Linked DNA regions of Homo sapiens. The protein of the gene in region 1 purifies or fractionates together with the protein of each later gene. This does not show direct contact. Each region holds a gene or a part of one and is shown on either strand. Other genes may lie near its edges.

What was found.
Region 2: the proteins of SDHB (region 1) and PREPL purify together in Homo sapiens (affinity purification with mass spectrometry; 2 studies listed by BioGRID and IntAct, with this or other methods). This does not show direct contact.

What each region holds. Positions count from the first base shown.
Region 1 is NC_000001.11:17,044,010-17,051,040, reverse strand, and holds part of SDHB (succinate dehydrogenase [ubiquinone] iron-sulfur subunit, mitochondrial isoform 1 precursor), read left to right. Parts: intron 1-6,152; coding exon 6,153-6,280; intron 6,281-7,031. UniProt on the Homo sapiens protein: Iron-sulfur protein (IP) subunit of the succinate dehydrogenase complex (mitochondrial respiratory chain complex II), responsible for transferring electrons from succinate to ubiquinone (coenzyme Q).
Region 2 is NC_000002.12:44,317,107-44,323,525, forward strand, and holds the end of PREPL (prolyl endopeptidase-like), read right to left. Parts: intron 6,306-6,419; coding exon 6,156-6,305; intron 5,749-6,155; coding exon 5,625-5,748; intron 5,332-5,624; exon of another isoform or gene 4,795-5,331; coding exon 4,721-4,794; exon of another isoform or gene 4,340-4,720; coding exon 4,250-4,339; 3' UTR 3,534-4,249; coding exon of another isoform or gene 3,093-3,533; 3' UTR 1,090-3,092; coding exon of another isoform or gene 1,012-1,089; 3' UTR 501-1,011; downstream 1-500. Other genes in the region: amino acid transporter heavy chain SLC3A1, read left to right, coding at 3,093-3,533. UniProt on the Homo sapiens protein: Serine peptidase whose precise substrate specificity remains unclear. Does not cleave peptides after a arginine or lysine residue. Regulates trans-Golgi network morphology and sorting by regulating the membrane binding of the AP-1 complex.

The sequences.
Region 1 (7,031 bases):
GGCTAAAAGGTTGGATTTTTGAATCAAGTGACCTGTGTTGCTATATGATCCTATCCTCGTCTTTTAACTGGGAACAACAAAACATTTTTCATAGAGATGTTATAAAGATTAGAGATTATTTGGCACCGTGTGTGACAGATTATAAAGGTTCGATGAATGAAATCTGGCAAATTTTTAGATATATGTATTCAACGAATTTTTTGGTGGAACACAGATAACATAATCCTGAGAATTAACTCTTTGTACAGACCTCAAGATGAGCAAAGCTCTATCACTTTCAGAACCATGACCACTCTGGTGATTTTGATTTCAGAATCTTCTTTCATTCTGGTAAACCCCCTTTGCCCCACCAAATATTGTATGAAATACATTTTTTTTTTTTTTTGAGACAGAGTCACGCTCACGTTGTTGCCCAGGATGGAGTGCAGTGGCGGAATCTTGGCTCACCGTACCCTCCGCCTCCCGGATTTCAAGCAATTCTCCTGCCTCGGCCTCCCAAGTAGCTGAGATTACAGGTGCCCGCCATCGTGCCTGTCTAATTTTTTTGTATTTTTAGTAGAGACGGGGTTTCACCGTGTTGGCCAGGCTGATCTCGAACTCCTGACCTCAGGTAATCCACCTGCCTCGGCCTCCCAAAGTACTGGGATTACAGGCATGAGCCACCACGCCTGGCCTATAAAATACATTTTTGACACAAAACAAATTTAAATTAGTTGTACTGAAAAAAAAAAAATGATGACATTTTGGGGCACTCCAAAACTGATGTTGGGATATGTCGACTTAGATATTCAGTGTAGTACATCCTGGCATTGCTCTTATTTCACATCATTCATATGATAAGACTTTTTAAAAATTTAAATTAGCTCTAATACAAACTTAGTCTCTTTTGGAAAGATAATACGTGATCAATTATCCGTGTAGAGTGGATATGAAACAGATATTTAAATGTTATAAAGAAATGTTGAAGGGAAAACCTCATTGCAGGTAACCACAGTCATCCCACAGGCCTTGTGGTTCTGATACCCAGCTTGATAGAGCCTAATGCCTGTTGCCCACTGACAATACTAAATCAGGCTTTAGAACTAGGGGGTTATGCCTGGCACAGTGGCTCACACCTGTATGTAATCCAGCACTTTGGGAGGCTGAGGCAGGTGGATCACGACATCAGGAGTTCAAGACCATCCTGGCTAAAACGGTGAAACCCCATCCCTACTAAAAATACAAAAAAGTTAGCCGGGCGTGTGACACGCGCCTGTAATCCCAGCTACTTGGGAGGCTGAGGCAGGAGAATTGCTTGAACCCAGGAGGCAGAGAGATCTCGCCACTCCACTCCAGCCTGGGTGACAGAGTGAGACTGTCTCACAAAAAAAAAAAAAAAAAAAAAAAAAAAAAAGAACTAGGGGATTATGCTCCAGTCCCAGATTCTGTTTAAAGCCCGGTTAGGGGCCAGGCGCGGTTGCTCACACCTGTAATCCCAACACTTTGGAACGCTGAGGCAGGTGGATCACTTGAGGCCAGGAGTTTGAGCCCAGCCTGGCCAAATGGCAAAACCTTGTCTGTACTAAAAATACAAAAATTAGCTGGACTTTATGGCACATGCCTGTAATCCCAGCTACCCGGGTGGCTGAGACAGGAGAATTGCATGAGCCTGAGGGGTGGAGGTTGCAGCGATCCAAGATCGCGCCACTGCACTCCAGCCTGAGCAACAGAATGAGACTCTCCAAAAAAGAAAAAAAAAAGTCCAAGTTAGGGCCAGACACAATGGCTCACACCTGTAATCCCAACACTTTGGGAGGCTGAGATGGGAGGATTGCTTAAGCCCAGAAATTCCATACCAGCTTAGCCAACATGGCAAGACCCTGTCTCTACAAAAATTAGCTGGACATGATGGTGTGCACCTATAGTCCCAGCTACTTGGGAGGCTGAGTCAGGATGATCGCCTGAGCCCAGGAGTTAAAGGCTGCAGTGAGCCATGATCTCCAGCCTGGGCAATAAAGCTAGACCATGTGTCTATAAAAATAAAAAATAAAGGCCGGGCAAGGTGGCCTGTACCTATAATCCCAGCACTTTGGGAGGCCAAGGCAGGCGGATCACCTGAGGTCAGGAGTTCAAGACCAGCCTGGCCAACATGGTGAAACCCCGTCTCTACTAAAAATATAAAAATTAGCTCGGCGTGGTGGCAGGCACCTGTAGTCCCAGCTACTCAGGAGGCTGAGGCAGAAGAATCACTTGAAGTCGGGAGGTGGAGGTTGCAGTGAGCCGAGATCGCGCCATTGTACTCCAGCCTGGGGGACAAGAGTGAGACCCCATCTCAAAATAAATAAATAAATAAATATTTTAAAAAATAAATGAAAAATAAAAGTGTCCAAATTAGAAGTAAAAACTTGAAGTAGCCCCATTTTTTAAAAGGCATATTGTCCCACTTACCCTACTATCTGCCTCAGGCACAGCAGCCACCCACTCTGGAAAATAGTTTTGTCAGTTGCTTAAAAAAAACTAAACTTGTAGCTACCATACAGCCCAACAATTACACACCTGGGTGTTTATCCTGAGAAATGAAGATGTAACGTTCACACAGAAATTTGTCCACAAATGTTCATCTCAGCTTTATTCATGTCACCAAAAATTAGAACACCCCCAATGTCCCTCAGTAGTTACATGGTTAAGCAAATTGTGGTACATGATACCTTGGAGTGCTACTCAGCTATAACAAGAAAAAAGCTATTGCTGTACACAGCAACTTGGATGAATCTCCGGAGAATTCGGCTGAATAAAAAAAGCCAATTCCAAAAGGCTACATACCAGATGATTATATTGATATAACATTCTTGAAATGACCGAATTTGAGAAGTAGAGAACAGATTAGTGATTGCTAGGGCTTACGGAGTACAGGGGAGGTAGGGTGGGAGGAAGTGGACAGGGCTATAAAAGGGCAATGTTAGTGATCCTGTGCTTATGGGAATGTCCCCTATCTTGACTAGCACTGTCAGTATTCTGGTTGTGCTGGTGTGCTACAGTTTGCAAGATGTTCCTGTTGGGGAGACTGGGTAAAGAGTATGTGGGCCCTGGCATGGTGGCTCATGCCTATATCCCAACTCTTCGGGAGGGCCAGGCAGAGGATCACTTGGGGCCAGGAGTTCAAGACCAGCCTAGGCAACACAGTGAGACCCCTATCTCTACAAAAATAAATGTAAAAAAACTAACTGGGCATGGTGGCGCATGCCTGTAGTCCTAGCTACTGGGGAAGCTGAGATGGGAGGATCGCTTGAGTCCAGAAGGTTGAGGCTGCAGTGAGCTGTGATCATGCCACTGCACAATCAGTGACAGAGCAAAACTCTCTCTCTTTTTTTTTTTTTTTTAGCTTGAGTTTCACTTTGTCACCCAGGGTGGTATACAGTGGCACAGTCTTAGCTCACTGCAACCTTTACCTCCCAAGTTCAAGCCATTCTCCTGCCTCAGCCTCCCTAGTAGCTGGGATTACAGGCACACGCCACCACACCCTGCTAATTCGTTTTTTTGTATTTTTAGTAGGGACGGGGTTTCACCATGTTGGCTGGGCTGGTCTTGAATCCCTGATCTCAGGTGATTTCCCAACCTCAGCCTCCCAAAGTGCTGGGATTACAGGTGAGAAGAGTATGTGGAGTCTCAGTATTATTTTCTTCTTTTTGTTTTGTTTTGTTTCTTTGAAACAGCGTCTCACTCTGTCACCCAGGCTGGAGTGCAGTGGCGCAATCTTGGCTCACTGCAATCTCCGTCTCCCAGGGTCAAGCGATTCTCCTGCCTCTGCCTCCCGAGTAGCTGGGATTACAGACATGTGCCACCACACCGGGCTAATTTTTGTATCTTTAGTAGAGACGGAGTTTCACCATGTTGGCCAGGCTGGTCTTGAACTCCTGACCTCAAGTGATTCGTCTGTCTTGGCCTCCCAAAGTACTGGGATACAGGTGTGAGCCACTGCACCTGGCCTCAGTATTATTTTCTATAAATGCATATGAATCTATAATTATTAAAAAATAAAAAGGTTGGCCAGGCACGGTGGCTCACGCCTGTAATCCTAGCAGTTTGGGAGGCCAAGGCAGGCAGATCACCTGAGGTTGGGAGTTTGAGACTACCCTGACCAACATAGACAAACCACATCTCTACTAAAAATACAAAATTAGCCGGGCCTGGTAGCACATGCCTGTAATCCCAGCTACTCGGGAGACTGAGGCAGGAGAATTGCTTGAACCGGGGAGGCGGAGGTTGTGGTGAGCCAAGATTGCACCATTGCACTCCAGCCTGGGCAACAAGAGCAAAACTCAGTCTCAAAGATAAATAAATAAATAAATAGTTTAATTTTTTAAAAAAGCATTTAACTATGGTTATATGCAGTAACATATGAATCTCAGAAGCATTATGTTGAGTGAAAGAAGCTAGACATGAGACTACGTACCGTATGATGCCATTTATATGAATTCTGTAAAAGGCAGACTCGTGATGATAGCTGATCAGTTGCTAAGGGTAGGAAAAGGGGACTTATGTTTGCCATCAAGGGCACAAAAGACCTTTTTGGATGGAAATACTCTGTTGTAATTGTGGTAGGATTACATTGCTTTGTCAAAACTCATTATACCCTTAAAATTAGTGAATTTTATTATAATGAATTATACCTTATTAAATCTCACAGAAAAAAGACCAAAAAAAAAATGGGACATTAAGCAAGCAAAGTCCACTGGAGTTGATACCTTCAGGAATCTTTCCTCTCACTTCCTCCCAAATACCACAAGGTGGCATTAGATGTTCATGTCAGTTTACAAAATGGGGTTCCCGGTGAAAAACATTTGTAGAAATGGCTTTCCTTTTGTTGATGATTTTAGCCAGCTTGGTGATAAGGTAAAACATAGCTTTCATCTTAACTTTCATTTTCTTCATATATTTTCTTCTTTTCTACTGTTAGCTGATGTTTGTATTTTCAGCTTCAGTTAATACGGGACACTTTACCAAGAAATAATGTTACTGGTAGACGGTCTTGACCACAAGTCGTCAAGGTTTTTAGCATGTTGAACAAAAAATTGGACAAAACACACAAGCAAAGCAACAGAAGACGAAAGCATAGATTTATTGAAATGAAAGTACACTCCATAGAGTAGGAGTGGGATTGAGCAAGTGGTTCAAGAGCCCCAGCTGCACAGTCTTCTGGGATTAAAGTACCCTGTACGGGTTTCCTATTAGTTACACCCTATGCAAATGAAGACTTGGCCCGAGACGAATCAGAGGCTGTAGTGAAGACTCCCTGTCTCTAAACCCTGTTCTCCTGCCTCAGTAATAAACACCACTGCATCTTTTTGTAATTAGTCAATTAACCTTCCGAGTTTTTACTTTTCTATATCAGTTTATTTTAAAAATTAGCAGTCCTGGAGTATAGTCTTTTCTTTCTTTTTTTCTTTTTTATTTTGTATTTTTGAAAAAGAGTCTCACTCTGTTGCCCAGGCTAGAGTGCAGTGGCATGATCTTGGCTCACTGCAGCCTCAACCTCTCGGGCCCAAGCAGTCCTCCCACTTCTGCCTCCTGAGACGCACACTACGACACCCAGCTAATTTTTTTATTTTTTGTAGAGATGGGGTTTTGCCATGTTTCCCAGACTGCTCTCAAACTCATGGGCTCAAGCAATTCTCTCACTTCTGCCTCCCAAAGTGCTGAGACTGCAGGCATGAGCCACCACCCTCAGACCACACCCCACACTCCTTCCCCTTAATTCTGGTTTGTCAAGCCTCCACTTAGATGACATGTGAGGAAGCCTTCTCTGACTCTTCACTCATTGAAGTCTCTGCTGTATTCATCCAGAGCTCCCTGTACTTTCCCAACAGTATCGCTCTTTATATTCATCGTGAATGTTTAATTTAACTCTTGTTCACTACAAAGTAAGTTCTGTGAAGATGAAGGTTTTTGTGTATTAAGTGCTGTGTCACTAGCCCCTAATACCATGTCTGATATATTAGCATATGATAGGTGCTTAATACTTGTTGGATATTGAATGCCTGCCTTTTCTAAGAAGATTATGTGTCAGTAATGTGTGAGTTTATATCCAGCGTTACATCTGTTGTGCCAGCAAAATGGAATTATCTTGTATTTCTAATTTTTTTTTCCTTTTTGTGAACTTTAAAAAATTTCAGGCCTCCCGAGGAGCCCAGACAGCTGCAGCCACAGCTCCCCGTATCAAGAAATTTGCCATCTATCGATGGGACCCAGACAAGGCTGGAGACAAACCTCATATGCAGACTTATGAAGTTGACCTTAATAAGTGAGTATCTCTGTGAAAGCCAGCTATTGAAGGAGAGTTCTTGATTTGATTTAGGGACATGCTTTTCACATCCTTGGAAGGCTTAAAAATCTGAGATCATCCGATGGCTCTGTTTTTAAAACAAGAATGAGCTTGGGCCGGGCACGGTGGCTCACGCCTATAATCCCAGCACTTTGGGAGGCTCAGGCGGGCAGATCATCTGAGGTTGGGAGTTCAAGACCAATGTGGCCAACATGGTGAAACTCCCCTCTCTACTAAAAATACAGAAATTAGCTGGGTATAGTGGCTCATGCCTGTAATCCCAGCCACTCAGGAGGCTGGGGCACAAAAATTGCTTGAACCCAGGAGGCAGAGGTTGCAGTGAGCTGAGATCATGCCATTGCACTCCAGCCTGGGCAACAGAGTGAGACTCTGTCTCCAAAAAAAAAAAAAAAATGAGGTTGTTACCTGATTCAGAAGAATAATACCAAAATAATTCCCAAATGAAAGTATGACAAATTTCTAGAAATACTGGTATAATTAACTTTATGCACAGTATTTAAAGTCATTTAATATATTACCATTTTTTTAATGCTGAATGTATTGATTATATCTTATACATCTGGACCTGTGTTTTCTATAATAATAACAGAACCGCCAGAAACTTGCCTTGAATGGACAAGGTAGGGATGTGGTTAAAATGTTAAAAATTGGACTGGCGTGTTAGTTTTCTATTTCTGTCAGAGCAAATTACCACAAACTTAGTGACTTA
Region 2 (6,419 bases), on another chromosome or scaffold:
CTCTAGATTTGAGCTGTTCAGTAGCCATTAACCACTGTGACTATTACATTAAATAGAATTAAACATTTAGTTCCTGCTGGGTATGGTGGCTCACGCCTATAATCCCAGCACTTTGGGAGGCCAAGACTGGAGGATCACTTGATCCTAGGAGTTTGAGACCAGCCTAGGCAACATAGTAAGACCCTATCTATCTCTTAAGAAAAAAATTAGCTGGGCATAGTGGCACACACCTGTAGTCCCAACTACTCAGGAGGCTGAGGTGGGAGGATCACTTGAGCCCAGGATGTTGAGGCTGCAGTGAGCCATGATCATGCCACTGCACTCCAGCTTGGGCAACAGAGGGAGATTGTGTCAAAAAAAAAAAAAAAATTCAGTTCCCATGTCATAGCAACACTTCAAGTGCTCATTAGCTGCCATATTGGATGGCTCTGATATAGAACATTTCCAGCATTACAGAAAGTTCTATTGGCCAGCATTGTTCTAGACATTGAGAAACATTATTTTCAAGTGGTCATAATTTTAATGGTAAAATTAGGACATAAAAATAATTTTCAAAGAATTATTTTCAAAGAACACTAGACATAAAATATAACAATTTTCAAATTTTCAAAGAATACTAGAAGAAAAAAATTATACAGTCAATCCAACAAAAAGCTTAATAGAAAAAAACCCTAAACAATAGTATAACTACAAATAAAATAGGGCTTCCGAATTATGTCTAAATAATACAATAATTACAAATATGAATGGGTTAAATTAGCCTATTAAAAGATAAAACCACTCAGATAACAAAAACAGACATAAGAAACACTAACATAAAACACAAAGAATTAAAATGAAGATATAGCAAGCAAATAATAGAAAGCTTGCAACCCAGCTATAGCTATAAACACAAAAAATGAAGTTATCTTTTGACCTAATAATTCCATTCCTAATACTTAGAAATATTTGCACATGTGCACAATAATACTTAAAGGATCTCAACACTGTTTTTTTTTTTTTTTGAGACAGTCTTGCTCCGTCACCCATGCTCGAGTGCAGTGGCGTGATCTCGGCACACTGCAGCCTCTGCTTCCTGGGTTCAAGTGATTCTCCTGCTGCAGCCTCCCAAGTAGCTGGGATTACAGGTGCACGTCATTATGCCCGGGTAATTTCTGTATTTTTTAGTAGAGATGGTGTTTCACCATGTTGGCCAGGCTGGTCTTGAACTCCTGACCTCTGGTGATCTGTCTGCCTTGCCTCCCAAAGTGCTAGGATTACGGGCCTGAGCCACCTTGCCTGGCCTGCAAAATTTGTTTTTAATAGAAGACACAAGAAATGATTTAAATATTTTATCAACAGAAAACCAGTTCTATCAACTATGGGCCCAGTATGCAGCTTTTAAAAATGACAGTTCTATATACATTGATATGAGACCATTTCAAACAGGTATTCAATAAAGTATAGAATGGTAACATATCACCAACTGTGTAAAGAAAAATATATAAACATATGAAATGATACATTCTGTGCCTATGCAAACATATGATACATTAAAAACAAAAGAACATATAGTGCCTGTCTCTGAGGGGAACTGTGAAGCTATGGAAAGGTGTTGAAGAAAACCTTTTTATAGTATGTATTCTTGTAATTGAATAAAAAATAAAATTACAAAAATCAGGCTTGGAAGTATTTAATAGCAGACAAAATATAGTTCAATATGAAAAGCATTATATGAGACAAAGGCAATTTTCAAAAATTGATAAAACATTCCACCAAAAATCATGACTACGCATCTAACAGCTTCAAAATATAGAAAATACTCAAATGCAAAATCAACAAATCTGCAATTACAGAAAAAGACTTCAACATACTTTTAGAAAGTAGTAACTCAAGTAGACAATAATAGCTAACACTTACCGGGCACTTCTTATGTGAGTGGCACTGAAACATGTGCTTTCATGCATTACCTAAGGCTAGAGAAAATGTTAATAACTTAGACAAGTCATACATGTATCATAAATATCTTTGTACCTGACAAACAGAATAAACATCTTTTTAAACACCATTAGATAATTATTTAAAGACCACATATTGGGAACCTACCCCTAAAGAACAATAACAACCACAATAACAACTATCACCCCAGTAAACATGGCTGGCAAGAATACAATTAAATGAACATTATCACTGATTTGGCAACAGCTCTTATGAAGAATAATTTGGCATTATGTATCAAGTGCCCATACTCTTTGACAAAGTAACTGTCTTTCTGATAATCTATCTTAAGTAATACAAAAATGGGGGGAGGGGAATAAAAATACAAAATATTAGAAACACTATCGTCAAAATGAAAGGGCATGGCTGAGTATGGTACAACCGTTCAACAGAATATTGTCATTAAAAACATTTATGGAGGCTATATTATATAGTCAATAACAGAAAATGCTTGAAAGGTTAGAAGTACATCATCAAATTATGTTTTATATAGCTGTAAAATAAACCCAAATCATCTTTAATGAACACATACTATTATGGTAAAAAAAAGTCTACAATTTCTAACTTTCACCTTAGGCAGCTTTTTATTTTGCATCCTTTTTTTCAACTTTGTCTTCTATTAGCTGTGCAAGAAATACATGTCTGCTAAAGTTACACGATCTTCGCACAACAGCAACCTACACATTAGTCTACAAAGGGGAACAAACCCAAATTCCTCAGAAGTCTGAGTCCACTGTTGCCTTCTTTCTGGCCATCTGGCAGTTACAATATAGCACAGAATGACTATGCAAGTTAAATATTCATCTTAGACATGGACATTTGCTTTGGGACTCCTAAAGTGGAGTCAAATTTGATCTCTACAGAAACTCTACAATGTAGCAGAGCACTGTGCGTACTTATTGACTCCCAGACAAGCCGAAACCCCGAATTTGTCATTTCTATCAGTTTTTATATAAATTGTTCTTACCTACTTATTGATGCTTACAATTTGGCAATTATAAGGGGCAAAATTGGAGCAAGTGTTTTGGGTAAATAACTCCTTACAATATATTAAAAATACTTACAAACAATTCTTAGAATCAAACACTTACGTAAATACTTTTTTAAAAAAATAGGTCCAAAAGACTCAGCCCAGATCGGCTTTGAAGTTATATCAAGATTTAAGTCTACTTCATGCCAATGAGCTACTCCTCAACAGGGGCTGGTTTTGCCATTTGAGGAATGACAGCCACTATGTTGTGTACACAAGAGAGCTGGATGGCATCGACAGAATCTTTATCGTGGTTCTGAATTTTGGAGAATCAACACTGTTAAATCTACATAATATGATTTCGGGCCTTCCCGCTAAAATGAGAATAAGGTTAAGTACCAATTCTGCCGACAAAGGCAGTAAAGTTGATACAAGTGGCATTTTTCTGGACAAGGGAGAGGGACTCATCTTTGAACACAACACGAAGAATCTCCTTCATCGCCAAACAGCTTTCAGAGATAGATGCTTTGTTTCCAATCGAGCATGCTATTCCAGTGTACTGAACATACTGTATACCTCGTGTTAGGCACCTTTATGAAGAGATGAAGACACTGGCATTTCAGTGGGATTGTAAGCATTTGTAATAGCTTCATGTACAGCATGCTGCTTGGTGAACAATCATTAATTCTTCGATATTTCTGTAGCTTGAATGTAACTGCTTTAAGAAAGGTTCTCAAATGTTTTGAAAAAAATAAAATGTTTAAAAGTAAATTATGGCTTATAGGAGCTTATAACTTTATTCAGATAGCATCAATCAGGGATGACCAGAACACATTAGGACCCCAGATTATTCAAAAACTTTAACGAATTTTAAGGGGAAGAATTTTATCTTTTCCCTTAAAATGCAGTCATAGAAATTAGAGGATGACTCACTGCCACAGTGTCTAAAAGCATTTGCTAGCAAAGAGGCAGGACACTAATTTGTAAACTGCTCAACTGTTCTGACTGGAAGGGAGGCCTGGAGCTCTGCTATCACCAATCCTTCCCTTCCCTCTACTCCACATCCTTCTAAGGAGCATGATTTGAAAATTACTTTCCTAGGTTAATGGGCATGTGCATCAATGGAGAGAATAGTATAAGCAAGTGAGATGTAGACTAAGCAAAATTTAGATGGAGAAGCACATTTTAAAAAATTAATAACTTAAAAGTCTCAAGTTATTAATTTTTTTTTTGCTAACTCAATTGGAAGTAAGACTATGAAATATTTCAGTGTGTTTCCAATTCCCAGTTGAATGCAGTGTTTCAGAATTTCAGGTATTTCTTAAGATCCTCGAAAACACTGGTGCTGTCAAGTCCAAGTTCCTCGTACAGGAATTTAATTTGGGCTGTAATCTAAAAGAAACACATTAAAAAAATTAAATAGAAGGCCTTTGTAGTAAAATGCCACTGTTTAAGCTTCTCTTTATCTATCCATCTTTACCTAACCGTGAAGTCAGCAATTTATGGCAAGAATACTTTCATTCGAGAGAGAGGCAGAAGGCTTCCAACAATTAAGATTAAATTATTTTCTTTAACAGAGCTCACGTATCAAGTACAAGAGAGAGACATTTCTCTTGATTGACACAGTGTCCCTCCCTCCCCTCCTGGGTCTCACCCATAGATAGGACATTTGTGAAGTGGCTTTGTCATAAACCTGCTGCAACCACTGAAAATGTGAAAACAACATGTATCTAGTTCGGGAATCTGTCCACTGAGAGGGCCTTGATAACATACCTTTTTGTGAGAATCCTCAATTACATGATTGCCTCCAGGCTGAATATCTAGAATAATATTAGGGGTCTGATAGCCTGGAAGAGTTAACATGTAGAACAATTAGAAGATTGTATGGGATCTTCTTTGGAAGATCGAGACCCATTCCTCCCCTCTTCTTTGAGTACTCAGTTCAAATAATAGTAAAGGAATAAAAAGCAAAAACCACCATCATCAACAAAAAGATGGGAGGGGACAAGCAACAGAAGACAAACTTCTGACACAGCGAAAGCAGGAAGAGGCCGTATGGAAAAGACTATATGGTGCCACACGGACAAGGTTGAAACCCAGGAGATCATCAACCTGCCCTGTGGAATCTGAGAGTCTTATGCCCTGGAAACACCAACTACAGCAATGGATGGGGGTGACAAATGGAGATGAATACAGGGAGACTGATATGGCATGTAGTTTCAAGGCAAAAGGGAGGGATTCTTATCTCATAAAGCTGAAACAGCTAGCTAGAGGAAATTCATGCAGCTAAACAGTTTGGGCACTGATGGCCCAAAACAAAAATCTCAGAATCTGTCTTTTAGAGATTCCCAAGAATAACGGCTCAATAAATATTGTTAAATGAATTAATAATTGTATGGCAGTGCATCTCCAAGTTATATCTGATTCTTAAATTTCCTGTTTCCTTTGTGTCCTGCCTATCTATTTTAATACTGTCCTTTGAAAAAGAGGTGAGGCAGTGTATGTATAGACATGTAGTTACGTACACTTTAACTGGGGAGTCAACATAGCAAAATAATTGTTTGCCCTAAATCCTGGGCAGATGATTTGGCTACAGCCTGAAATATATTCCTCTGAGCAGTGTGCTGTGGGTAGTAGTCTGTTTGGCCATGTTCCCTGCTTCTAGGGGGTCTCCTACCTTCACCTGTGTCCTTAGCATGCTCCGCGATGGCTTCCTTGAGTTTCTCAGTATAACTTACAATTCCTTTCAGAGGTACCCGTTCATCGTTTTCATATGCCGTTATGTGAATTGAAGGATAATGCTGAAAGAAAATACATGCACGAAGAGTTTACATTATTTCTTATGGTCCCTTGCCACTATAGAGACTATGAAAAATAATTACCTCCAATTTTTCCCTGTAAGTGCTCTATGCTTTTTCTCACTTGCTATCTTGAGAGCGCCTCAGTATTACAGTAGTAGACTACTTGTTATCTGGAATAGCCTTTTCTTGACTAAAGGACCTTAGCTAATTTAGTAATTAAGGCATGATAAGTCTATTCCCCTGAGGTATTAAACATGGAGCATGAGCAGAGATGGTGCTGAAGATATTTGGGCATCATAAGTAGAAACATCTCTAAAGCTCCTATTTTTGCTTCAGCTTGGATAAGTTTTTTTTTTATTATCTTCTGTGTAAATTCAGGATAATCTAACACAATTGTCTTTCACTACCTGAGGTTTAATATTTTGATAGGGACAGTAACGTTTTATGTAGTTCTTGTGTTTTTCATCAGATGAAGGATTCCCCCATTCTTCTAATTCTTCTAATGTCAGAGGAAGTGTAGTGTCCATCATGGTGTTGAGAACATCCAAGAAAGGTGCCTAAAAAAAAGGCAAAGAAACTTATACTTCAAGTAAGAGGTTGGTAAGTGAGTTTCAGAAAAACATTCTATTTTATGAATATACATACTAATATGAGAGAAAATAACTCAAGCC